Linked DNA regions of Homo sapiens. The protein of the gene in region 1 purifies or fractionates together with the protein of each later gene. This does not show direct contact. Each region holds a gene or a part of one and is shown on either strand. Other genes may lie near its edges.

Region 1 (3,500 bases):
TATTTTTGTACTTTTAAAGAAAGCAGCTTGCATTTAATTAGAAAGAATGGACCTAAAGGGAACCTCGTTGTCAGGGAAATGAATTAGAACTGGTTATAATACACAGGAGTTATAAAAATTGTTTCTCTTGGGTAGGACCTCTCAACCTTGAGACTTGGTGTTTTGGGCCAAATTAATTCAATAGTGTGGGAAGCCCTCCTGTTCTTTGTAGGATGTTTAGCAGCATCTCTGGCCTCTTAGCCCATTAGGTGGTAGTAGCACCCCCAATTGTGACAACCAACAATGTCTCCACAAATTGCCAAATGTCCCTTGCAGGGCAAAATCATCCCAGTTGAGAACCAATGTCCTGAGATGCCTAGAAATGTGTAGAAATGGGATTGCTGAGCTGTAGGGTTTAACAATGTTCAGCTACACTAGTAATGCCAAAGTGGCTTTCTGCAGAGGTTGTGCCAATTTATACTCTAACCAGCTATGGTTAAGAACTTCTTTTGCTCCACATTTTCACCAACATTTTTTATTTTCAATTTGACTTTTTACTTTTTGCTGATCAGATTTGTCGTTGATATTATTTCCTTCATTACTAGTGTGGTTGAAGATCTTTTCAGATATTTGACTATTGAACTTTCATTTTCTGGAAGTGTCAAGTCTTTTTTATCAACTTTTTTCTGTTAGATTATTTGTCTTTTTTCTTCTTGATTCATAGACATTCTTTATATATTCTAAATTCTAAATTCTTTTCCTCCTCCAGTTTTACCTTGGTTTTTCCCCTCCCCTCTGTCTATGGCATCTCAATGAATAGAAGTTCTTAATGTAGATGGCATGTGGCTTGTGTTTTTTGTGTCTTGGAAAATCTTTCCTTACACTGAGATCATAAAGATATTTTTCTGTATTGTCTTCTATAGTGTGCGATAGGCATTCAATTCCCTTTTTCTTTTTTTTTTTTTTGCCATAGGGAAATCAGCTATTCTAGCATCATTTATTGAACAGAGTCTCTTGTCCCTACCAATTTGCAGTACCACCTGTCTTATATATCAAGTATTCATTAGTGTGTTTCTGGCCACTTAATTCTGTTTTATTGGTTTATTTGTGTATCCTTGTGCCAGTGCCACCCTGTTTTAATTAATGTAGTTTTATGTGTCTTGATAACTGATAGGGTAGCTTCTTCCACCTTGTGGTCTTTCTTCAGAAATGTTTTGGCTGTTCATGGACCTTTCCACTCCTGTATGCATTTTAGGATTTGCTCATCAAGTTTCACAGAAACTCTGTTGGTCTTTTTATTGGGAATTAATTGCTTCTATATAGACAGTTTGGTGAGAGTCAGCACTTTTGCTATACTGAGTTTTCTTATCCACCAATGGGATATAATTTCAACATATTTTGTAGTGTCTTTCATTAAAATTTTATTGTTTTCTCCATAAAGATCTTATATACTTTATGTTAGATTTATTCCTAAGTAGTTTATATTTTTTGAAACAATTATATGTGGTATTCCTTAAAATGTTTTGCTTTGTTATTGCTGGTGTATTTTTTGTTGTTTTTTTGTGTGTACATACATAGCAATCTAGATGGCTCTTAATCTTCATGTTTTTCTGGACATAAATTTAGATTTTCAACAACACAATTATCTGTGTATAATGACAGTTTGTTTCTTCTTAGCCCTTTTATCTTTTAAAAAATCCTTTTCTTCATTGGCTAGGACTCAACGACCAGTTTTGTATCTTGTTCTTTGTCTTAGAGGGAATACTTTGTTTCACTAAGTATGATTTTACATTAGGTTTTTTATAGTTTTTTTATTTGTTTAAGGAAGTTCCCATAAATGTCTAGTTTGAGGTTTTATCATGTTGAATTTTAGCAATGTTTTTTCCTCTACCCTTGGAGATAATATAGTTTTTCTTCTTTAATATTAATATAGTATACAAATCAATTTATTTATTTTTAATAAATCAATTTATTTATTTATTTTTAATAGAGATGGGATCTTGCTGTGTTACCCAGGCTGGAATGTAGCGGCTATTCACATGTATGATCATAGTGCACTGCAGCCCCAAACTCCTGGCTCAAGTAATCCTCCCACTTCCTCCTCCCAACTCACTGGGATGCAGGTGCACACCACTGCACCTAGCTCCAGCTCCAGTTGATACTTTTAAATATAAAACCAAACTTAACTTTCAGTTTGCTAATATTCCCTTTAGGATTTTTGCATTTATTTAGTTAATTTAATTTTTATTTATTATTATTTTTATTATTTTGAGACAGGATCTCACTCTGTCGCCCAGGTTGGAGTGCAGTGGTGGGATCTCAGCTCACTGCAGCCTCAATCTCCCAGGCTCAAGCAATCCTCCCACCTCAGCCTCAATAGTAACTGAGACTGCAGGCACACACCGCCATGCGTAGGTAATTTTGTTCATTTTTTGTAGAGACAAGGTCTCACTATATTGCCAGGCTAGTCTTGAACTCCTGAGCTGAAGGGATCCTCCTGTGTTGGCCTCCCAAGTGCTAGGATTACAGGCATGAGCCACCACACCTAACCTTTTGCATTTATTTTATAAGCGAAATCGGCCTGCGATATTGTTAGGTTTTAGTATTACAGTTATATTAGCCTTATCAAATGAATTGGAAAGTATTCCTTCTTTTTCTGTTGTGTTAATTAATTGGTGTAAGACTGAGATTATTTATTTCCTGAACGTTTGCTAGAACTCTGTGCTAAAACCATCAGGACCTGGGGTATTCTTACTGAAAGGTTTTAACTATTGATTCAGTTGGCTTTTCATTTCTTCTTGAATCTGTTTTTGGTAAGTTACGTTTTTTTCCCCAAGAATTTGTCAATGTCATACACATTTTGAGGGGTTATACTTATTTAATTTCAGGAAAATAATGTAGGGGTCACAGCTGAAACTTTCAACGCAACCAAACATTAGTTATTCATACCAACCCTGCAAAAACCAATGCTTGATCATGCATACTGTGTGAAGAATATCAGTATCTGGCATATATTGAATCCTTACCCTGTTTCTGGCACTGCACTAAATGCCTGCTTTTTAAAACAGCTTTAATGAAGTATAATTCACATGCAATAAACTGCACGATAAGTATTGTGCAATTGATAGATTTCAGTATCTTGTACATTTTAAAATTTGATGGCCTAATGTTGTTTATATCTGTCCCAGGGAACCACTTTTGGTTATGCTGATCCTCTCTAGTATGTTTATTTCCTCTTTTGTTAATTTTTGCTTTCTTTGGGTTTGTTCTGCTGTTTTTATAGTTTTTAAGATGGATATACAACTCATTAGTTTTCTTCCTTCCTGCCTTTCATCTTTAATGTAACCAAGGCTATAAATTTCCTTCAGAATACTGCCTTAGATATCATCCCACATTTGGATATATACTTAATTTATTTTTTGAATTTTAATATTTTATTTTTTATATTATTTAAAAATTTTTTGTAGAGACGAGTTCTCACTGTATTGCCCGGGCTGGTCTCCAACTCCTGGACTCAGGCA
Region 2 (3,500 bases), on another chromosome or scaffold:
CGCCCGAATCCTGCTGCCCGGCCCTGGGCCTGGCCCAGCTGGTGAGTGAGGAGCTGAGACCCCCTCAGGACAGAAGGCTCTAGGCCCATCTGGCCCCTGGCCTTGGCCCTGGCCACTGTGGCGAGACCACCTCATTTCCTGCCTATAGATCAGTAGGGGAAGGAGGAAAGGCCACAGTGGGGGTCTCGGCTCTGGGTGAGGGACTCCTGTGCTCGATACCCCCGTGCACAGAGCCTGTGGCCTCAGGACCCCGGCCGTGGGCAGAGCAGCTCAGGGCTCGGCACCTAGAGGCTCTCCGGAGGCAGCTGCATGTGGAGCTGAAGGTGAAGCAGGGGGCTGAGAACATGACCCACACGTGCGCCAGTGGCACCCCCAAGGTAAGGCCCCACAGTCTGATGGCAGGAGCACCCTGGCCCCTGGTCTGACAGGGAAATGCACCTCAGCCATTGGGCTCATAAGGAGACACCATTCCAGCCTGCAGCCTGATGGGGAAAATACAGCCCCAAACCCCAGCTGGGTGAGGAAGGCATGGCTGTAGTCTCTAGTGTGACAGAGAAGGCCTTGCCCTGGTCTAATGGGATCCTAGCCCAGCCCCAGTCCCAACTCCCAGCATGATGTCCAGAACTGGGCCTCAGTCCTTGTCTGACAAGAAGACTTGGCTGTGGCCCTGATATGATGACGGAGGCAGGACCTTAGCCTTGATCTAATGGGGGAGGCTTAGCTTAGCCCCTGCCCTGATCTGATGGGGGAGGCTTATCCCCAGCCCTGATCTGATGGGAGAGGCTTAGCTTAGCCCCTGCCCTCATCTAATGGGGGAGGCTTAGCTTAGCCCCTGCCCTGATCTGATGGGGGAAGCATCAACCCTGCTCTGATGGGGGAGGCATGACCACAGCCCTGATCTGATGGGGGAGAGTTAGCCCCAGCCCTGATCTGATGGGGGAGAGTTAGCCCCAGCCCTGATCTGATGGGAGAGGCATGACCCCAGCCGTGATATGAAAGAGGAAATTTGACCCCAGCCCTTGTTGGTCAGATGGAAAAGGCTCCCCTGACCCACCAACTAGTCCAACAAGGGAGGCTTGACTTTAGTGTTTGGCCTAGAGGTTTCACTTTAACCCTGTTTTGATGGGGGAGACCCGGCTCCAGTTCCTGGTCTGATGGGGGAAGCTGTGGCCCAGGCCTGGTCTGATGGGCCTGTGCTATGGCTCCATAGGAGAGGAAGCTCCTGGCAGCTGCCCAGCAGATGCTGCGGGACAGCCAGCTGAAGGTGGCCCTGCTGCGGATGAAGATCAGCAGCCTGGAGGCCAGTGGGTCCCCGGAGCCAGGTGAGGCCTTGAGACACAGGGAGGGCGGAGCAGGGAAGAGCAGGGCCTGAGAGCCGCCGTCCTTCCCACAGGGCCTGAGCTGCTGGCGGAGGAGCTACAGCATCGACTGCACGTTGAGGCAGCTGTGGCTGAGGGCGCCAAGAACGTGGTGAAACTGCTTAGTAGCCGGAGAACACAGGACCGCAAGGCACTGGCTGAGGTCAGGCCCCAGCCCTGGCCCTCTCCTAAGGCTGGCTTGTTCCCATACCACCCTCAGCAGGGGTGTGAAGGGAGGGTGGCCGTGTAAAAGCAGGACTTCTCTGTTGAGACTTCATGCGGAAGGTGGCTCCGGGTGACCTGGGCTGCTGCCCCCTGCCATATACCCCACGAACCTGGCTCTACGTTGTCCCCTCTGCAGGCCCAGGCCCAGCTACAGGAGTCCTCTCAGAAACTGGACCTCCTGCGCCTGGCCTTGGAGCAGCTGCTGGAGCAACTGCCTCCTGCCCACCCTTTGCGCAGCAGAGTGACCCGAGAGTTGCGGGCTGCGGTGCCTGGATACCCCCAGCCTTCAGGGACACCTGTGAAGCCCACCGCCCTAACAGGTAGTCAGAAGTTCCTCCCCCTTCAAAGCTCTCCTTCTTTTTGGGGGGAGGCCGGAAGCACAAACAACTCTGATGAAGAGTTCAAGAGTTCCAGTCCTGCCCCAGCACCCACTAGCAGCGTGACCTTGGCAAACTGACATTCCTTCTTCAAACCTCAGTTTATCCATCTGTAAAATGTGGATGATATAGCACCTACCTCATAGGGTTGCTGTGTTGCACGTGATGTGCTAAGCACAGTGCCTAGCACAGTCAGCACTCGGACAGCGTAGCTTGTATTTACATAAATAACCAGAATAATGCTTAAAGCACTGGTGTTAGGAAGCTCGCAGCCCTGGAAAGCTTGATACCCAGCACTGGGCAGCTTGGACTGTTAGAAAGTTTTCTAGGCTGGGCGTGGTGGCTCACGCTGGTAATTCCAGCACTTTGGGAGGCTGAGGTGGGTGGATCATGAGGTCAGGAGTTCCAAGACCAGCCTGGCCAAGATGGTGAAACCCTGTCTCTACTACAAATACAAAAATTAGCCGGGCGTGGTGGCGGGTGCCTGTAATCCTGGTTGCTCAGGAAGCTGAGGCAGAGAATTGATTGAACCCCGGAGGCGGAGGTTGCAGTGAGCCGAGATCACGCCACTGCACTCCACCCTGGGCGACGGGGCAAGACGCCGTCGCAAAAAAAAAAAAAAAAAAGGTTTTCTTGGGCCAGGCATGGTGGCTCATGCCTGTAATCCCAGCACTTTGGAAGACTGAGGTGGGCGGATCACCTGAGGTCAGGAGTTCAAGACCAGCCTGGCCAACATGGTGAAATCCTGTCTCTACTAAAAATACAAAAAAGTAGCTGGATGTGGTGGCACATGCCTGTAGTCCCAGCCACTCGGGAGGCTAAGGCAGGAGAATTGCTTGAACCCAGGAGGTGAGGTTGCAGTGAGCTGAGATTGCGCCGCTGCACTTCAGCCTAGGTAACAGGGCAAGACTCCATCTCAAAAAATAATAATAATAATTTCCTTGGAAAAAAAATAATAAAATTAAACTAAAATTGCTGGGTGCAGTGGCTCACACCTATAATCCTGGCACTTTGAGAGGCTGAGGTGGGAAGATTGCTTGAGCTCAGGAGTTTTTTTGAGACCCAGTCTCAAAAAAAAAAGAAAAAAAGAAAGTTTTCTTGGCTGGGCACAGTGGCTCAAGCCTGTAATTCCAGCACTTTGGGAGGCTGAGGTGGACGAATCATTTGAGCCCAGGATTTCTAGACGAGCCTGGGCAACATAGTGAAACCTCATCTTTAGAAACAAAAAAAATTAGCCGGGCGTGGTGGCGCATGCCTGTAATCCCATCTACTGGGGAGGCTGAGGCAAGAGAATTGCTTGAACCTGGGAGGCAGAGGTTGCAGTAAGCCAAGATTGCACTGTTGCACTCCAGCGTGGGTGACACAGCAAAACTCTTTCAAGAAAAAAAAAAAAAGAAAGAGTTTTCTGGTCTGGCTCAGTGGCTCATGTTTATAATCCTAGCAGTTTAGGAGGGTGAGGCATGTGGATCACTTGAGTCCAGGAGTTTGAAACCAGCCTGGGCAACATGACAAAGCTCCATCTCTACAAAAAATACAAAAA
Region 3 (3,500 bases), on another chromosome or scaffold:
CCTCCCCTCCCCTCCCCTCCTCTCCCCTCCTCTCTTGCCCCCAATTAAAAAATAGCACATCCCTAATGTGGGAAACAGTAAGAAAGCATAGATTACATTTTAGGCAGGGCACAGTGGCTCACACCTGTAATCCCAGCACTTTCGGAGGCTGAGGTGGGTGGATCACTTGAGGTCAGGAGTTTGAGACCAGCCTGGCCAACATGGTGAAACCCTGTCTCTACTAAAAGTACAAAAATTAGCCGGGCATGGTGGCGGGTGCCTGTAATCCCAGCTACTTGGGAGGCTAAGGCAGGAGAATTGCTTGAACCCAGGAGGCAGAGGTTGCAGTGAGCAGAGATCACGCCATTGCACTCCAGCCTGTGCGACAGATCAAGACTCAGTCTCAAAAAAAAAAAAAAAAAATTAATATCATTGGAGATCATACCACCGAAAGTGCTGTTGTTAATCTTCTTGATTATCTATCTGCTTCCTGCATTTTGTTGAGCCATTACATAAGTATATGTATACTTATATGATGTTATGGGCTCCTAATGTAGTCCACTGCAGTGCAAGCTGTTCAGTTAACAGTGAATCATCAACATATTTTCATGTCAGTATTTTTCTGCTATGTGATTATTTTTAGTAGGTATGTAACATTCTCATCTCTGTGTAATAATTTACTTATCAATCTTCTGTTGGACATTGAAGTTGTTTTCAATTTTTAGGATAATAATACTGTCACTTCCCTATATCATGCATTTTGATACTGGCCTACCTAGTATCAGTGATTTTTTCTATTTTTGTTTCTCTGAAAATATCTCAATTTCACCTTTTTTTTTTTTTTTTTTTTTTTTTTTTGAGACAAGGTCTCACTCTGGCACCCAGGCTGGAGTGTAGTGGTGTGAACATGGCTCACTGTAGCCTCAACCTTTTGGGCTCAGGCAATCCTTCACCTCAGCCTCCTCAGTAGCTGGAACCACAGGCACATGCCACCATGCCCAGCTAATTTTTAAATTTTTTGTATAGGCGGGGTCTTGTCATGTTGCCCCGGCTGTTCTTGAACTCCTGGGCTTAAGAGATCCCCCCACCTTGGCCTCCCAAAGTGCTGGGTATAGGTGTGAGCCACCATGCACGGCAGTTTCACCTTTTTTGAAGTGGTTTTTGGTGTTTTTTTTGTTGTTGTTGTTGTTGTTTTTTTGAGACAGTCTCGTTCTGTTGCTTAGGCTGGAGTGCAGTGGCGTGATCTGAGCTCACTGCAGCTTCTGCCTCCTGGGTTCAAATGATTCTCATGCCACAGCCTCCTGAGTAGCTGGGATTACAGGCATGTGCTACCATACCCAGCTAAATTTTTTGTATTTTTAGTAGAGATAGGATTTTGCCATGTTGGCCACGCAGGTCTCCAAACTCATGGCCTCAAGTGATCTGCCCACCTTGGCCTCCCAAAGTGCTAGGATTACAGGCATGAGCCACTGTGGCTGGCCTGAAGTGTGTTTTCACTGGCTATTAAGTTCTAAGTTGGTAGTTATTTTCTTTCAACACATTAAGAATGTTTGGTTGCTTTCTGTCTTCCTTTCTTTTTGTTGAAGTCAGCTACCAGTCTTATTGAAGGCAATGTATTAGCTATATTCTTGCTGAGGATAATGTGTCTTTTATTTTTCCTTGGCTAATTTTAAGACTCTCTGTGTTACTTTTAAAGCACTTTGATGTGTTCAGATGTGGTTTTCTTTGTTGCTTTATGTTTATAGAGTTTTTTGAATCTAGCTGGATGCCTTTTAGTTTTGGAAAGTTCTGTTACCACCTTTTCATATATTCTGCCCCTTTTTTCTTTTTGGATCCTAATTACACATATATTAAACTTAATTATCATGTTCCACATGTTGAAAAAAATTTTTTTCTCTGTTTGGATATTTTCTATCGACCTGCCTTCCAGTATGCCAAAACTATCTTCTCTTTTTGTCAAAATAATCTTTTGTGTTCTTAATTTTACATTGTGGTTTTGAGTTCTAGAGTATTCCTTTGATGTTGTTTTATAGACTTGTAATAGACTCCAGTTCTCTTGAACATACTAATTATAGTTATTTAAATGCTTGTCTTTTCCAATATCGGCATCATCTATTGGTCTGTTTATCTTGTTTGTTTTTCTGTTGGTTATTGGTCATATGGTTGTATTGTTCCGTCTCTTCACATGCCTGATAAGTTTTCGAAGGAACTTACCCATTTCATTTAACTTGTTGCATTTATTGCAAAAAGTTGCTTATAATACTCTATTATTGTTCTTTTAATATCTGTAGAAAGTGTAATGAGTCTAATATCTGTATAACCTGTAGAGATTTAGTATCATTCCGAATACTAGTAATTTGTCTCTGCTCCCCTTTTCCCTGATTAGTCTGGCTAGAAGTTTATTAATTTTATTGAGGTTCTTAAAAAGTTAACTTTTAGTTTAATTGACTGCCTGTGGTTTTCTTATTTCCGCCCTGGTCTTTATTTCCTTTCCTCAGCTTACTTTTGGGTTTAATTTGTTTTCTTTTTCTGGTTTCTTAAGATAGAAGCTGAGGTCATTGATTTGTGACCTTTTTTCTTTTCTAATGTAAGCATGCTATAAACTTCCCTTTAATTGTTTATAATTTATTTATTTGTTTTTTGAGACAAGGTCTCACTACTGCTCAGGCAGTACAGTATCGTGATCATGGCCCATTGCAGCCTTGACCTCTCAGGCTCAAGTGATCCTCCCACCTCAGCCTCCTGAGTAGCTGGGACTGCAGGCATGTGCCACCATGCCTGGCTAATTTTTTATTTTTATTTTTATTTTTTTGAGACTGGGTCTCACTCCGTTGCCTAGGCTTTAGTGCAGTGGCCCAATCACGGGGTCACCACAGTGTCGACGTCTCAGGCTCAAGAGATCCTCGCACCAGAGTCTATTAAGTGCTGGGATTACAGGCGCGTGCCATCATGCCTGGCTAATTTTTGTATTTTTTGTAGAGATAGGGTTTCACTATGTTGCCCAGGCTGGTCGTCAACTCCTGAGCTCAGGCAATCCACTTGCCTCAGCCTCCCAAAGTGCTAGGATTACAGGTGTAAGCCACCACACCTGGCCAGAGTTTATTACAATTTTTTCTGAAGACAAGGATGTCACTGTGTTGCCCATGTTGGTCTTGAACTCAGTTCAAGCAATCCTCTTTCCTTGGCCTCCTGGAGTGCTGGGATACAGATGTGAGCCTCCACTCCTGGCCGTTTCCAGTTTTTGATATGTTTCCATTTTCATTCCATTCAGAGTACTTTATAATTTCTTTCCTGATGTCTTACTGGGTCTATAGTTTATTTATAAGTGTGTTATATAGTTTTCAAATATTTGAGGATTTTCCAGAGATCATTGTTATTTTTAATTTAATTCCATTGTAATGAGATAATTTTAAATTTATTCGGATTTATTTTATGGCCTAGAATATATTCTATCATTGTAAGTGTTCTTCATGTGCAGTTGAAAAGAATGTGTGTTTTGTTGTTAGGTGGAGTGTTTTACA
Region 4 (3,500 bases), on another chromosome or scaffold:
GAGGTGATACATAGCTTTGGATGCAAAGAGCCAAACCTGGAAATGGTCAGCCTTTGAATGCCTGTTAACTTTGTTTCCTAAATTTTTTTTTTTTTATGAGACAGTGTCTCACTATGTTGCCGAGGCTGCTCTTGAACTCTTGGGCTCAGGTGATCTTCCTGCCTCAGCCTCCCGAGTAGCTGGGACTACAGGTGCACACTACCATGCTGGGCTTATTTTTTCTAGGGTTGGCAACAATTAAAATAATACATTATTTAAGGTTTAGATTTTCCTCCTATTTGTAATCATTTGTTGAAATCATCACTTTTTCAATAAGCTATGTTAGATATCTTTCAGGGAACTAATTACCATTTTATATTGTATTATAGGTTGGGGGGTTACATATTGGTTGTGAAGTAGATAGTGGGCTCCTTCAGGTTGTTTACCTATTTCAATTTTTAGCTCCCCAGCATACTGCGTTTGATGAAAGTTTTTAAATATTCGTTGAATTAACATTCGTATTCACTAATACGGCTTAAACTTGTAAGATGTGCTAAAATAAGTACTGTATATTCTTGGCTGTTCTTATTAATTTGGTTTTAGAAAAATGGAGAAGTGAAAGAACATTTTTCTTTTTTATTTTTTTTGAGACAGAGTCTCGCTTTGTTGCCCAGGCTGGAGTGCAGTGGCGCGATCTCGGTTCACTGCAACCTCCACCTTCCCGGGTTCATGCCATTCTCCTGTCTCAGCCTCCCAAGTAGCTGGGACTATAGGCGCCCGCCACCATGCCTGGCTAATTTTTTTGTATTTTTAGTAGAGATGGGGGTTTTACCGTGTTAGTCAGGATGGTCTCGATCTCCTGACCTCGTGATCCGCCCACCTTGGCCTCCCAAAGTGCTGGGATTACAAGCGCGAGCCACCACACCCGGCCAAAAGAACATTTTTCATTTGCTTTAAAAATATATAGCAATATAAATCCTAAAAATGAAGAGAGTCTGTTTTAAATTGACAGTTCAGTGGCTTTTATATTGTCTGATACTGTTACTTGTTTCTCTTTCAGAGTTAGAATTGAAAAAGTAAGTAGACAATGCTAGCACCTTCTAAGTTCTTATATTTAAAAGGATTAATGTTGTCAAACTGACATGGTGACTCCCATGTAGTCATCTTGCAGCTTCAATAGTTATAGTCTTTCTTAACACTTAAAAAAACTTAATTTCTTAAGATATCAAATATTGAGCCAGTATTTATTTCCGTGATCATTTCACTTTTTTAGAAGCCATTTGTTTGAATCAGGATCCAAGTAAAGTTCATTTATTGCAATTGATTACTATGTAAATAAAGTTCCTTTACATCTATGGGTGCCATCTGTCTTTTATTTTAAATGTATTCTTTGAAAAAATCAAATTGGTTGTTCCAAAGAAATTCTTATTCTAGACCAGGAATTTCTCCTACTTTCTGGTTTGAGGATCTCTTTACTCTTAAAAATTGAAGATTCTAAATCTTTTGTTTATGTGGGTTATATCTACCGCTAGTTACTACATTGGAAATTAAAACACTTAAAAATTTATTTAATAATTATTTGTTTTAAAACTATAATACTAAATCGATTCATGTTAAATAATATTTTAAAAATTTTTAATTAAGGCCAGGTATGGTGGTGCATGCCTGTAATCCCAGCACTTTGGGAGACTGAGGCAGGCAGATCACATGAGGTCAGGAGTTTGAGACCAGCCTGGGCAACATGGCAAAACCATGTCAGTACTAAAAATTTAAAAATTAGCCAGACGTGGTGGTGCACATCTGTAATCCCAGCTACTTGGGAGGCTGAGGCACAAGAATCACTTGAACCCGGGAAGCGGAGGTTGCAGTGAGCTGAGATTACTCCAAGCCTGGGTGACAGACTGTATCTCAAAAAAAAAAAGATTTTTAAAATTACAAATGGACACATTGTAATTGTATGTATTTATGGGATACAGTTTGATGTTTTGATAGATGTATATGTTGGTCTAATGATCAAATAAGGGTAGTTAGTATCCATTACCTCATGCAATTATCGTAACATAACATTTTTAATGAAAACCAATTATATTTGCTAAAAAATACCAGGGAAAGGAGTGATTATTTTACATTTTTCCAGATCTTTATAAGATCTCTCTTAATAGAAGCCTGCTGAATTCTCGTGTCTTTTTCTGCATTCAGTCTTGCTGTATCACATGACCTCTGCAAAACAACACTGTACGCTTGTGAGAGAATGAGAGTGAAAAAAGGCAAATAATAGATGAGCATTCTTGTGAAAGTAGTTCTGACTTAATTGACCCCATGAAAGTGTCTTGACCCCCTGGAATCCACAGACTGTTGGCTGAGAAGTGGACCATTTTCTGAATATTGATAATTAGATCAAGAGACTAGGATACATTGCTTTGCCTTAAGCAGACATATCCCTCTAAAATATTAATTCCCCAGAAAAGCAGAAACTGAATTTATAAAATTTCCCTTTGGCCCGTAACGTAATTTTATTTAGGTTCTCTTTCCTGTGACGTTAAGGTTTTTTAAAAAAAGTTGTTGATTTGATGTTTTTACATCTGATTCAACAAATTATCTCTACATTTCTTATAAAAATAAAAGTGTGTTCCTACATTAAACAAACAATCTGTAATTTTACAGGCTTTTTTTCTTGATAAAATAAATTTTTCATTCAAAATGTACAAGTAGAAGTTTCTTCTGTTGGTTTTCTGGCCGGGCGCAGTGGCTCATGCCTGTAATCCCAGCCAGCACTTTGGGAGGCTGAGGCGGGTGGATTGTTTGAGGCCAGGAGTTTGAGACCAGCCTGGGTAACGTGGCAAAACCCTGTCTCTACTAAAAATACAAAAATTAACAGGGTGTGGTGGTGCATGACTGTAGTCCCAGCTACCCAGGAGGCTGAGGTAGGAGGATTGCTTGAGTCTGGAGGCAGAGGTTGCAATGAGCCATGATCTGACCAGTGCAGTCTGGCCTGGGCAACAGAGTGAGACCCTGTCACAAAAAATACAAGAAGTTTCTTCTATTAGGTTTCTTTATTCAAGAAATACTTGTTGACCTCCTTACTGTCTTAGTGAACAAGGATGATTGAGCAGATAAAGGGACATACAGCTGTGTTCATGGAGCTTACATATCAGCCAGGCAAATGGACTTTGCCAAACTAGTAACTGCACAGTAATACAAAGGAGAAATGTAATTGGGAACCTATCCTAGTTTATGGAATCAGGGAAGGGTCCTTTGGTTTAAGATTTGAAGTATATGTAGAATTTACTAGGAGCTGTACCAAGAATATAGACATAGGTTTTAGCTGTTGTAATCATTTGAATGTGGTGTTATGTAGAACAGCATTATTTGACTTTTCAAATTGAACATTTCTGTTCATAAGTCCTTTCTGGAGGTAGACAGGATAATACACATTTAGATAAACTTTTATTTATTTATTTATTTTTTTGAGACAGGGTCTTACTCTCTCACCCAGGCTAGAGTGCAGTGGCATGATCTCA
Region 5 (3,500 bases), on another chromosome or scaffold:
TTATTTCTGTTAGTCAACACCAATGCGATAATTTTACACTTGCATTACTAATTGTTGTCTTTAAAAAAGACTTTGTTGGCATTTCAGTTTCTTGAATGACCCTTAAGATCTTTCAGTTATCAAGCAAAATGATCATGTGCTTATAAAAGGAGACTACTTCACTGGGCTGTTTGGTATGGAAATTGTCTTTCACAGAAATTCCTGTACATCCATCCCCTGCATGCTACAAATGCCTCCTTGTTGACATGCTAAGTTACTATTGCCTTAAAAAATAGTGTTTTCATGTACAAATTAAAAGCCATAACACTTTTAGTAGTCTATCTAATATAGCACTTCATAAACTGTATAAAACTCTGGTAAGTCACAAGTGTTTATGTTAAGAACAGTATTTTTCATTGTTTTCCTGAAAAATACTGTTCTTAACATAAACACTTGTGACTTACCTTTCTTCCCTCTTTCTTTTCCAATTTTCCTTAATGACATAGTACAGATGAAACATTATGTTTGTAAATAAACAAAAGTATTTCAACATCTTTTAACTTTATACAGAACAGAAGAAAGCTAAGACTGCAGAAAAGAGTGAAGAAAAGACTAAAAAGGAAGTGAAAGGTGGAAAACAGGAGAAAGTGAAGCAAACAGCTGCAAAAGTAAAAGAAGTACAGAAAACACCATCAAAACCCAAAGAAAAGGAGGACAAAGAGAAAGCAGCTGTGTCAAAGCATGAACAGAAAGGTAAACATTCAGAGCAGGAGGCTGCCGGAGGTTCTAAGAGAATATTGGGCAAGAAGCACATGCAGTGAAATTAAAAGTTGAAAAAGACCAAAATCAGACTTCAAATGGGGGTAAAAGACATTAAAGTAAATATATCAGAAAAGAAATACAGTAAATTGGGAATTAATATTTATTTATAAAAATACTAAAATGTGTTCACAGATCTAAAGGGGCATTTTGAAGTATTTTTAAAAGGGGTTTGGAGGTAGCATCCGAAATCATATAAAGATTGGGGATAAATGTTGAATTTTTGAGATATGGAATGTCTATTAAGAGGTGGAATAAAGATTGTATGTGTCATACTCTTTGGAGGAAAGTGGTCCCCCAAAATGACAGCAATTCCTAAGGAGTTTGTGAAGGGGTACATGTTGGAATCATATAGAGTAAATATCATAAAAACTATCCATACATTACTGTTGCATTGGCAAGAGCACATCATTTAGAATATACATCCAATTATTAAATTTATTTAATAGGCAAGATGTTATAGAGAAGACAGTTCTCAAGTTTCTTTTTCAGTTTCCATTGACTAAATTTCTAACTTTAGAAAGCTCTGAATGTGACATATTTCGCCATTCTTCAGCAAGAGTGATGTCAAACTTACATCCCCACTTTGCAAAAATATATCACTTCAATGGAGGTGGCATATAAACCTGAATTTTTATTTTATGGAAGGTTGCTATGTGAATATACAGAGCTGAAGGTTTAGGAGGGCAACTAAGGGTCTTATCGTACCACATCTCTGGCCCTTATTGAATGTTTCTTTTCCTAAGTCCATTCCTGACTCCAGTTTGCTGTATAATCCTGAGACTCCTTTACAGAATACGGGGATCTAACATGTAGAGACTATTCCTGTAATTGGTGTTTCTTGGAGACATTGCAAAACCAAATTTTTCTTTACTTTGTAGCACTTTTGACTAATGTTATCTAAGGACTGTATCAAAGAATTGGTTTCTATTAGATTTTAGTTTAAGAAATCTTACAATTTTATTACAGAGCAGGCTATTTGGAGGATGAAACTGAAATTAATTTTTCCTCATAAGGCACAAGAAATGAAATTTGCAATGCACTCGTACTGTATTTTCATCTTTTTTCTCTTGAATTTGCATTTGTAAACTTTGATTCACATGTAGTATTTGTCAACTCTGATTTATATGACAAAAGATACATATTTTAAAAATATATATTTTAAAAAGGAAAGATTTTTTCTTTTTTTAGTGATCTACAAACCTTTAAATTTAGATAATTTTAATTTATTATTTTAAGATATAAGTCATATTAAAACTTAGGAGCTCTAAAACTTTTTCCAATTTTCAAGGTGATTATATCACCATGAAAAAAATTTAAAAGTTAATTATTACTTCCATCAAAATTATGTCATTAATGAAATATTTTGGTAGACAAAAAGGATGAAGTAAGTAAAGAGAAAATACGTTGAATATAATATTTTACTGTGGTAAAAAAACAGCAGAAATAATCTTTGGATTCACTGGTATGATTACTTAGATCCTGAAATCCTTTACACTTTAGATTGCTGTTCAAAAAGAAAAATAATCACATGAAATCAGTGAAAACCTACAAAGTACATTCTAATTTTTAACCATAAATACAGAGTGTAAAAATTGATGCCAGTTATATTTGGAAATGTCAAAATACTTATCTAACAACTAGGAATGTGAATGTATTTTTTGATGTTAATTTTTCATATCTTTGGGGATTTGGGAGCCACATTTTATTGATAAAAACTCATCACCGGAACACTTTAAAATAATGTTTATTTTCCAGGCCACAAATATTGTATTTCATTTCTATCAGTAATCAGATTTATTAAAGACAGCATTATATTACCATATCCCTTTTCAGTCTACTATTTTTATTTCTACACAAAGAGTTATTTATCTATTAAAAGGACATTCAAATATCATTTAGAGTTTAAAACAAAAGCACAAATGTGATTTTATCAGCTAAACAATTGCAATTGCTAAAGCAAGTCTCAGTATTGAGAACAATTGCCATCAATTATATAAATGTATCATTAGGTAAGTATTCAAAACTTAACCTCTAATGGCAGATCAGACATATAAATATGTCATTTTATTTTTCATTTTTTGTTACTAAGCAAAGATTTAATTAAGAGCATTTTTAAATTAAAGAAAACTAATTACATTATGATTTTAGCTAAGCAAGATAAAGATATAGTTTTTTTTAATTTCTGAGGCTTTGGTTTTGAAAATTTTATATGATGACTTAGTTGAGTTAGCTCAACTAAGCTAACTGTTGAGTTAGCTTTTTGGGCAAGAGAATACTCATTCACATAGTTAAGTTAGACCTAATATGTTTGAGGCATTCTTTTCATATAGATTTCTAAATACTTCTTTTTAAAGAAATAAGGCTCATAGGTCCTTTACTCACTTGGAAACAGATTTTCACATGGGACACATATTTATTAGTAATTATTTAATTACATAGTATACATATGAATATATTCAATGTAGTTACTCTCAATATTGTATATGGAAATAATACATCTCTTTTTCTGCTTAAAGCATTAGGGATAAGATGCATATGTATATACACACCTACCATAAACACACACACACACACAGACACACACACACACCCATCAAATAATCTAGTTTTTATGAACCCATCTAAATCTGTTTGTAGAGTAGGAAGAGTTGGCATAGTCAGACATTGCTCCCTAGTTTTCTGATGACCTCTAGGAGGTC
Region 6 (3,500 bases), on another chromosome or scaffold:
TTGCGAAGCTCTCACACAACCCAGACAGTGAACATATTTATCCCCCACTGAGGTTTCCTTTGTACCCACCTGCCCTCCTGCCCTCCCACACTCCCCTTCCCTCTCTCTCTCTCTCTTTTTTTTTTTGTTTGAGATGGAGTCTTGCTCTGTCACCCAGGCTGGAGTGCAGTGGTGCAATCTTGGCTCACTGCAACCTCTGCCTCCCAGGTTCAAGTGATCCTCCTGCCTCAGCCTCCTGAGTAGCTGAGACTACAGGCGCACACCACCACACCTGGCTAATTTTTTGTATTTTTATAGAAATGGGGTTTCACCATGTTGGCCAGACTGGTCTCGAACTCCCAACCTCAGGTGATCTACCCACCTTGGCCTCCCAAAGTGCTGGGATTATAGGCGTAAGCCACCATGCCCAGCCACCTCCCCTTCTCTCTCTCTCTATTGCCAGGACATCAGTGATTCTGCTTTCCGTCAGTATAGATTAGTTTGCATTATTTAGAGTTTTATACAAGTGAAATCATACAGTATGAACTCCCTTTGGTCTGGCTACTTGGCATAATTGTTTGGAGACTTGTCCATGTTGCTGTGTGAATCGGTCATTCATTCCCTATTCCATTGGACGGATATTTCACAGTTAACTTATCCATTTACTACTTGATGGACATTTAGGCTGTTAGCAGTTTTTGCCTACCACAGAGTAAAGCTGTAATAAACACTCACATACTAGTCTTTATGGGGACATATACTTACAATTTTCTTGGGTGAATACTTAGGAGTGGGATGACTGGATCACATGGTGAGTGCATGTATAACGTCTTAAGAAACTGCCAGTTTTCCAAAGTGGTTTTACCACACATTATGCATTGGAAACCACTGTACTTTCAGAAAAGCAGGGTGGGGTCATGATGTTGTTATGGAAAGGAAGCCAACAGGTTGGCTTTATAGGATTTATGAAAGAGGCTATTTTTTTCGAGAACCTTGGGGTGTGATGCTGGACAGGTTTCCTTGAAATGTACTCGCTAAGGGTATAAAAGGAAATGCCCCAGCTCAGGCACAGACTTCGTCCTCGAAGGCAGTCAAGCTGTTGTTTCTTTGGTTATGTAGGGGTGGGCTTTAAAGAAATTCAAAACACATGAAAATGACAACTCGAGATTTATTTCAGTCAGTTCCGAGGCCCTGTGCATTAGGGAACTAGAACTCATTTTCTTCAGTACACAAACCTAGGACTTCCTTTTCCTGCTGAAGTCAGGGTAAAGAGGAGAAAGGTGGGTTCTGGGGGCACCGGGTCTTTTAGGGAGGGGCCCCAACCCCAGTGGGCACCACCCAGCCCTCATGTTCTTCTTGCCACCTGGTTACTCAAAGGCCCTTTTCCTGGGGAGTCCAGAGCCCAGGGCATTCTCAAAGCGACCACTGTCCTGTTAGCTTCGGTGAGTCCCTTAGCTGATAGAGCAGGGGGAAGGGGAACCAGTCAGCAAAACAGGACTTGACAGACAAGCTGAATCAAGGGAAAGGGAGCTAATGTAGAAAGGATGAGCTGGGAAAAATGTAACAGCCCACCTGCCATTCCTCATTTGTGGATGGGAGATGTACTAATTATTGTCTAAGTAGAAAGAAAACAAATGCTAGAATCAGGTGACCCTCAGAGTCAAAGAAGTGAATGATAACTTCAAAGGAGAGGTTCATTCATTTCTGTGTGGACTACTCAGATGATTCTGAAATCTAGAATACTATATAGACTCTAACTCCTGCTTGGAATATTTTTTTCAGAAGAATAAGCAGATTTAAAATTTAATCTCCATCTTTTTGGCATTTGGTTGTTACTATTCGTTTACAAGCCAGTCCACTTTTTGATTTTTGTCCCTTTTCCAGGAGCAGGCTTGCATCTGACTGACCCACCATGACACCCACAGACTTCACAGTGAGTACAGCCGTGCTCCTCTGGCTCCTCAAAACACACACTCATCTTCCCTTTTTAGGGGGTGTGGGAAGGATCCACTGTGGGGGAAGGATTTATCTGTGTGGTTTCCCAGGGTAAGATCTCTGCCTGGCAATGCGCATTGCTGGGTAGGTTGTTGTCCAGCACAGAGGGTTTTGCAAATGCAAAGAGGCAGCTATGCTTTGGGGTATGTTGTGGAGACAGAGGAAAATGTGGTGTTATAAACAGCTAAGGATTTTTAACCATCTTTAACTAGGGTGTGCTTAGTTCCATATGCCTGTTCTAAAACTCAGACAAATGAGGCAAAGGGAGAATTCATGTAATTTGCTTTTAAAAAACCCATGGTGGGCACATTAGTTGTATTTCTTGCATAACATTATGTAGACCTTATGAAAACACGTAACAGTATACATTCCCCTGAAAGAGACCAAGAGCTGAGCAAAAATTAGTGAGTCAGTCTGGGCGTGGTAGCTCACGCCTGTAATCCCAGCACTTTGGGAGGCAGAGGCGGGCGGATCACCTGGCCAAGGCCAGGATTTCAAGACCAGCCTGCCCAACATGGCAAAACCCCATCTCTACTAAAAATACAAAAATAGCTAGGTGTGGTGGCATGCGCATGTAATCCCAGCTACGTGGGAGGCTGAGGCACGAGAGTCGCTTGAGCCTGGGAGGTGGAGGTTGCAGTGAGCCAAGATCACGCCATTGCACTCCAGCCTGGGCAACAGAGCGAGACTCTGTCTTAAAAAAAAAAAAAAAAATCAGTGAGTCAAATCATAATCCAGAGAATCTTTTTTTCTTTTACAGCCGAATGTAATTAAGTGTAGAATCAAATTAATTTCCCATGCTTTTGTAACATTCATAAATGCCTTATAAAATTACCTAAGGGCTTTGATTTTGCTCTTCTCCAAGGGAAAGCCTGGGTTTTACATGTAGATAATTGAAATCCAGACTTCCTAGCAGGCGGGCTAACAAACTGCCTCACAGTACATTGTGGGTTTCCATGATCTATGGAGAGTGGTGGTTGAAACAGTTTATCAACTAAATTATTTATGATATGCTAATGATTCATTAGTATTACATATGTATAGTTACCTAATTGCACCTATATCCATAACAACAAAAAAGTAATTAATTTGGTCCTGGTGAAGTAACTATTATTCTGACAAAAAGTAGACTCTTCAGTTTCTCCTGCATTAAATTCACCTTTCAATCCCTGAGGCTGTGGAAACAGAAGTAGATGAAGGCAGCAGAGCCAGGGCTGCTTCTGAGCTTGCCAGTCATTTGCTTTTATCATTTGGGATCTTGGATAATAGCCAACTCTGCAAAGCAGCCCCAGATAAGAAGGAAACTGCACCTCAGTAATGACCTGCTCTTGTCAGAGGAGTCTGGCGCCATCTAAATGGGAAGAAGATGGGACCCCTGTGGCCCTGACTCCCATATTCCATGGAAAGTAGCCGTGGCACCCTGTGGCCACCTTTCTGAGGATGTGCTGGGCCAGTCACCCATGCAGGTGCCCCACATTCCCTCAGCGTCACAGTAAAGGCAGAGTCCTTTTTACAGATGAGGAGAC
Region 7 (3,500 bases), on another chromosome or scaffold:
CCTCTGTGCCTGTGTACGTCATCAGCCTTTATACATTCTAGTCCCTCAGCCACTGCTCATCCTTCTTGATCCACCTCCTCTACTGGTTTTTTGGGGGAGCCTTCCTCTCCCTAGGAAGAGTTAGATATTCCTTCCTTGGTGTATGTAATGAATGTCCATGGTATAACTGGCCCTACTTAAGCATTCTGACACTGGATGACAGTTTGTTTCTCTTTCCGTCTGCCCCTTTCATTAGATGCTTACTTCTGGAGAGTGAAGCCTTGATTTTTTTTTATTTTTTGACTCCCTACCTACATCCCATCCCACCATCGGCCGTGTACACCTCCATGGCCCAAACCTAGTGCTGACACTAACCACGAACTTTGCTTTCTAGCAGATCGAAAAAGCTTCTGCACAATCCACAGCACAGGCTATTTGAAAAGCTGGCCACCCACAAAGATGGGGCTGGATGAAGACAACGAACCAGACAATGAGGGGTGTAACCTCAGCTGCCTCGTCGCAATTGGACGACTGCATTCTCATGTAGTTCCACAACCAGTGAACGGGGAAATCAGGGTGAAATCTATGGAATATGTTTCTCGGCACGCGATAGATGGAAAGTTTGTTTTTGTAGACCAGAGGTAAGAGTCTACATACTACCCTTGAGCAATGATGGTAGAGGATTTTCAACCCTGATCTAAAAAGCAGAGAAGACTGGGCCATCAGCTGGCTTTTCTAAGAATGAAGAAAGAAAGAAAAAGCTGGGTGCAGTGGCTCACACCTCAAATCCCAGCACTTTTTGAGGCCAAGGTGGGTGGATCACTTGAGCCCAGGAGTTTGAGACTAGCCTGGGCAACGTGGCAAAACCCTGTCTCAACTAAAAATACAAAAATTAGCCAGGCATGGTGACACATACCTGTAGTCCCATCTACTCTGGAGGCTGAAGCAGGAGGATCAGCTGAGCCTCGGGAGGTCAAGGCTGCAGTGAGCTGTGATTGCACCACTGCACTTCCGCCTGGGCAACAGAGTGAGACCCTGTTTCAAAAAAAAAGAGACAAATGATGAGAGTCTCTGTTAAAAAATGAGATTCAATAGGATATCATCATAAATACAGAGATTTTTCTGTCATTCTTTGGCATATAGAGACAATTAAGTGGGGTGCCTTGATGTCCATGGCTAAAAGAAAAACAGTAGGGATAGCATGCTGTCTGAATCTATGGAATGTTCCAGAACCATTATTGTGATTGAAATTCTTTTGAATCTAGGACTTGGAAGCAATTATTTAGTCCTGAGCTGTCCAATAAAATACTCGTTGGCCATGGTAGCCTCCCATGTGGCTAACGGCACAGACATAGAACATTTCCATCATCACAGAAAGTCTTGTTGGACAGCGTTGATCTAATCCAACCTCCTTATTTTATGGATGAAGAACAGAGGCCAGCCTGGGGACTGGTCTCCTGTAGGATTCACAATTAATTGGTAATAGACCTGGACCAAGGACCCAGGTGTCCCAAATTTACTGCTGCCTACTGCTTTCCCTCAGAATATGCACAGGCTAATAATTTTTCTGGCTACTAGAGACAGCCACAACATGCTGGAAAAAGAGACAGCCTCAGCTGTCTTGTGGCCTCAGCTGCTGCAGCTTCTGGCATTTGGTTGTCCTGATAAAAAGGAGGCAGCAAAAACTAGAAGCCTTGCACTGAGGTTTAGATTTATACCACATTTTAATCTAATTAATGTGGTTCCTTTTTTAAAGACAGATCTCAGTCTGTCACCCAGGCTAGATCTAGTGCAGTGGCGAGATCTTGGCTTACTGTAGCCTTGACCTCCCGGGCTCAAGCAGTCCTCCCACCTCAGCCTCCCAGGTAGCTGTGACCATAGGCATGTGCCACCATACCCAGCTCATTGTTCTGTGTTTTTGGTAAAGACAGGGTTTCACCATGTTGCCCAAGCTAATCTTGAATTCCTGAGCTCAGACAATCTGCCCAACTCGGCCTCCCAAAGTGCTGGGATGACAGGCATGAACCACCATGCCCGACTGGTTGCAATTTTTAAAGCCCCCTCAGATTTGATTTCTTGTGATAATAGTCCCTTTACAAAGGCTTTGCTCTGTTTCCCTCTATTTTTATAGCCTTGATTAAATTCAGATGCCTGAAAAAAAGAGAGAAAGATCCACACAGTGAGCCCTCTGAAAATCCATCCAGCTCTTTTGCCTGCAGCTTTGACCTTGCTCTCATAGGCTGTAGCAGGGTTTATCCATTGCAAAGTTGCAATTAATCATCTGAATGGCTTTTTCTTCTTTAAATATTCCTTTATTCCCTTTTAGGGCAACAGCTATTTTGGCATATTTACCACAAGAACTTCTAGGCACATCGTGTTATGAATATTTTCACCAAGATGACATAGGACATCTTGCAGAATGTCATAGGCAAGGTAAGCTAGGATGTATGAAAGATCTTAAGTTGAAAGTGTCCCCTTGCTTCTAGACTAGTCAACATGACCTTCCAGGGAAATCTGTCCACTGAGGATGTAGAGTCAGCCAGCCTAGGACTCTTCAGGTCAGAACATCTGTGTGAAGAGGAAGCTGATACCTGCAGGCACTGTTTATCCCCCTTGTAGTTGCCCTGTGCTGACTGCATGGCAGTTTCTGAAAGACATCTCTTGTTCAGAGGGTTTTCCCAGACCCTGTAAAGATTTAGTATGGCCCAGACTGATCTGATTCTCTTTTCCATTCAAGCCTGCACTACCTCCTGTGTTTTCTGTCTTGACTAATGCTGTGGCTTCATGTGCAGGCTCCTGAGAGAGACCAACATTGACCCCTTCTTTCACTGTGTCTCCACCAGATCCTGTTCATTCACCTCAGACATGCATTTCCAAAAGTCTACTTTTTACCACCTCTGCCATCACCCTGGTTCAGGCCCTCGTGCCTACTTAGAGACCTGTGATAGACTTCTCAGGGTTTCTCTGATCCCTCTCACCCCCAGTTCATCTTCCATAGTTATCCTATTTATCCCCAGATAGATTGAGCCTGGTAACATCAGCCTGCTTAAAAACCTCCTGCTTTAGACTCAAGCCCAAATGCTTTTGACAGGCAATCAAATGTGAGACCTTCCACCTTCTGGCCCCAGCCCACCTCCTCAGTTTCAGTCCCCATCCCTGCCTGCAGAGGCCTGTGCTCCAGGCACACTGACCTCACTGGCCTCTCCCCAACCAGACCCTGCTGCTCCTCAGGCACTGCTGGGTTCTTCCCTCCCTCCTTCTCTTGGCAAACTCGTGTTCATCCCTCAAGGCTCTGATCTCTTCTCCCTGTATAGCCTTCCCTCACTACTCTTCTTGAGGGCAGGAGTCATAGCCTGTCTCCTCTTGTATCTCCAGTGCCTGGCACATGAGAAGGGCTCATTACATGTTACATGAAAGAATGAGGTTGAATAGGTGAGTAGCCTCTGTTGATTTGGATGTTCTTAGAAATGAGATAAGTTCTATATTGCCCTTGGGCTTTGTGATTGAGATAAAGCATGACA

Evidence for each region.
Region 2: the proteins of GOLGA5 (region 1) and PKN3 purify together in Homo sapiens (affinity purification with mass spectrometry, with the first as the bait; one large-scale study listed by BioGRID). This does not show direct contact.
Region 3: the proteins of GOLGA5 (region 1) and CLOCK purify together in Homo sapiens (affinity purification with mass spectrometry, with the first as the bait; one large-scale study listed by BioGRID). This does not show direct contact.
Region 4: the proteins of GOLGA5 (region 1) and RPRD1A purify together in Homo sapiens (affinity purification with mass spectrometry, with the first as the bait; one large-scale study listed by BioGRID). This does not show direct contact.
Region 5: the proteins of GOLGA5 (region 1) and TRDN purify together in Homo sapiens (co-immunoprecipitation; one large-scale study listed by IntAct). This does not show direct contact.
Region 6: the proteins of GOLGA5 (region 1) and CCR9 purify together in Homo sapiens (co-immunoprecipitation; one large-scale study listed by IntAct). This does not show direct contact.
Region 7: the proteins of GOLGA5 (region 1) and BMAL1 purify together in Homo sapiens (affinity purification with mass spectrometry, with the first as the bait; one large-scale study listed by BioGRID). This does not show direct contact.

What each region holds. Positions count from the first base shown.
Region 1 is NC_000014.9:92,800,805-92,804,304, forward strand, and holds part of GOLGA5 (golgin subfamily A member 5), read left to right. Parts: intron 1-3,500. UniProt on the Homo sapiens protein: Involved in maintaining Golgi structure. Stimulates the formation of Golgi stacks and ribbons. Involved in intra-Golgi retrograde transport.
Region 2 is NC_000009.12:128,705,503-128,709,002, forward strand, and holds part of PKN3 (serine/threonine-protein kinase N3), read left to right. Parts: coding exon 1-41; intron 42-231; coding exon 232-377; intron 378-1,210; coding exon 1,211-1,322; intron 1,323-1,393; coding exon 1,394-1,521; intron 1,522-1,719; coding exon 1,720-1,903; intron 1,904-3,500.
Region 3 is NC_000004.12:55,536,910-55,540,409, reverse strand, and holds part of CLOCK (circadian locomoter output cycles protein kaput), read left to right. Parts: intron 1-3,500. UniProt on the Homo sapiens protein: Transcriptional activator which forms a core component of the circadian clock.
Region 4 is NC_000018.10:36,057,560-36,061,059, reverse strand, and holds part of RPRD1A (regulation of nuclear pre-mRNA domain-containing protein 1A), read left to right. Parts: intron 1-3,500. UniProt on the Homo sapiens protein: Interacts with phosphorylated C-terminal heptapeptide repeat domain (CTD) of the largest RNA polymerase II subunit POLR2A, and participates in dephosphorylation of the CTD by RPAP2.
Region 5 is NC_000006.12:123,500,951-123,504,450, reverse strand, and holds part of TRDN (triadin), read left to right. Parts: intron 1-549; coding exon 550-732; coding exon of another isoform or gene 733-800; exon of another isoform or gene 801-2,623; intron 2,624-3,500. UniProt on the Homo sapiens protein: Contributes to the regulation of lumenal Ca2+ release via the sarcoplasmic reticulum calcium release channels RYR1 and RYR2, a key step in triggering skeletal and heart muscle contraction.
Region 6 is NC_000003.12:45,893,043-45,896,542, forward strand, and holds part of CCR9 (C-C chemokine receptor type 9), read left to right. Parts: intron 1-1,174; exon of another isoform or gene 1,175-1,259; intron 1,260-1,863; 5' UTR 1,864-1,891; coding exon 1,892-1,912; intron 1,913-3,500.
Region 7 is NC_000011.10:13,371,790-13,375,289, forward strand, and holds part of BMAL1 (basic helix-loop-helix ARNT-like protein 1), read left to right. Parts: intron 1-373; coding exon 374-620; intron 621-2,305; coding exon 2,306-2,412; intron 2,413-3,500. UniProt on the Homo sapiens protein: Transcriptional activator which forms a core component of the circadian clock.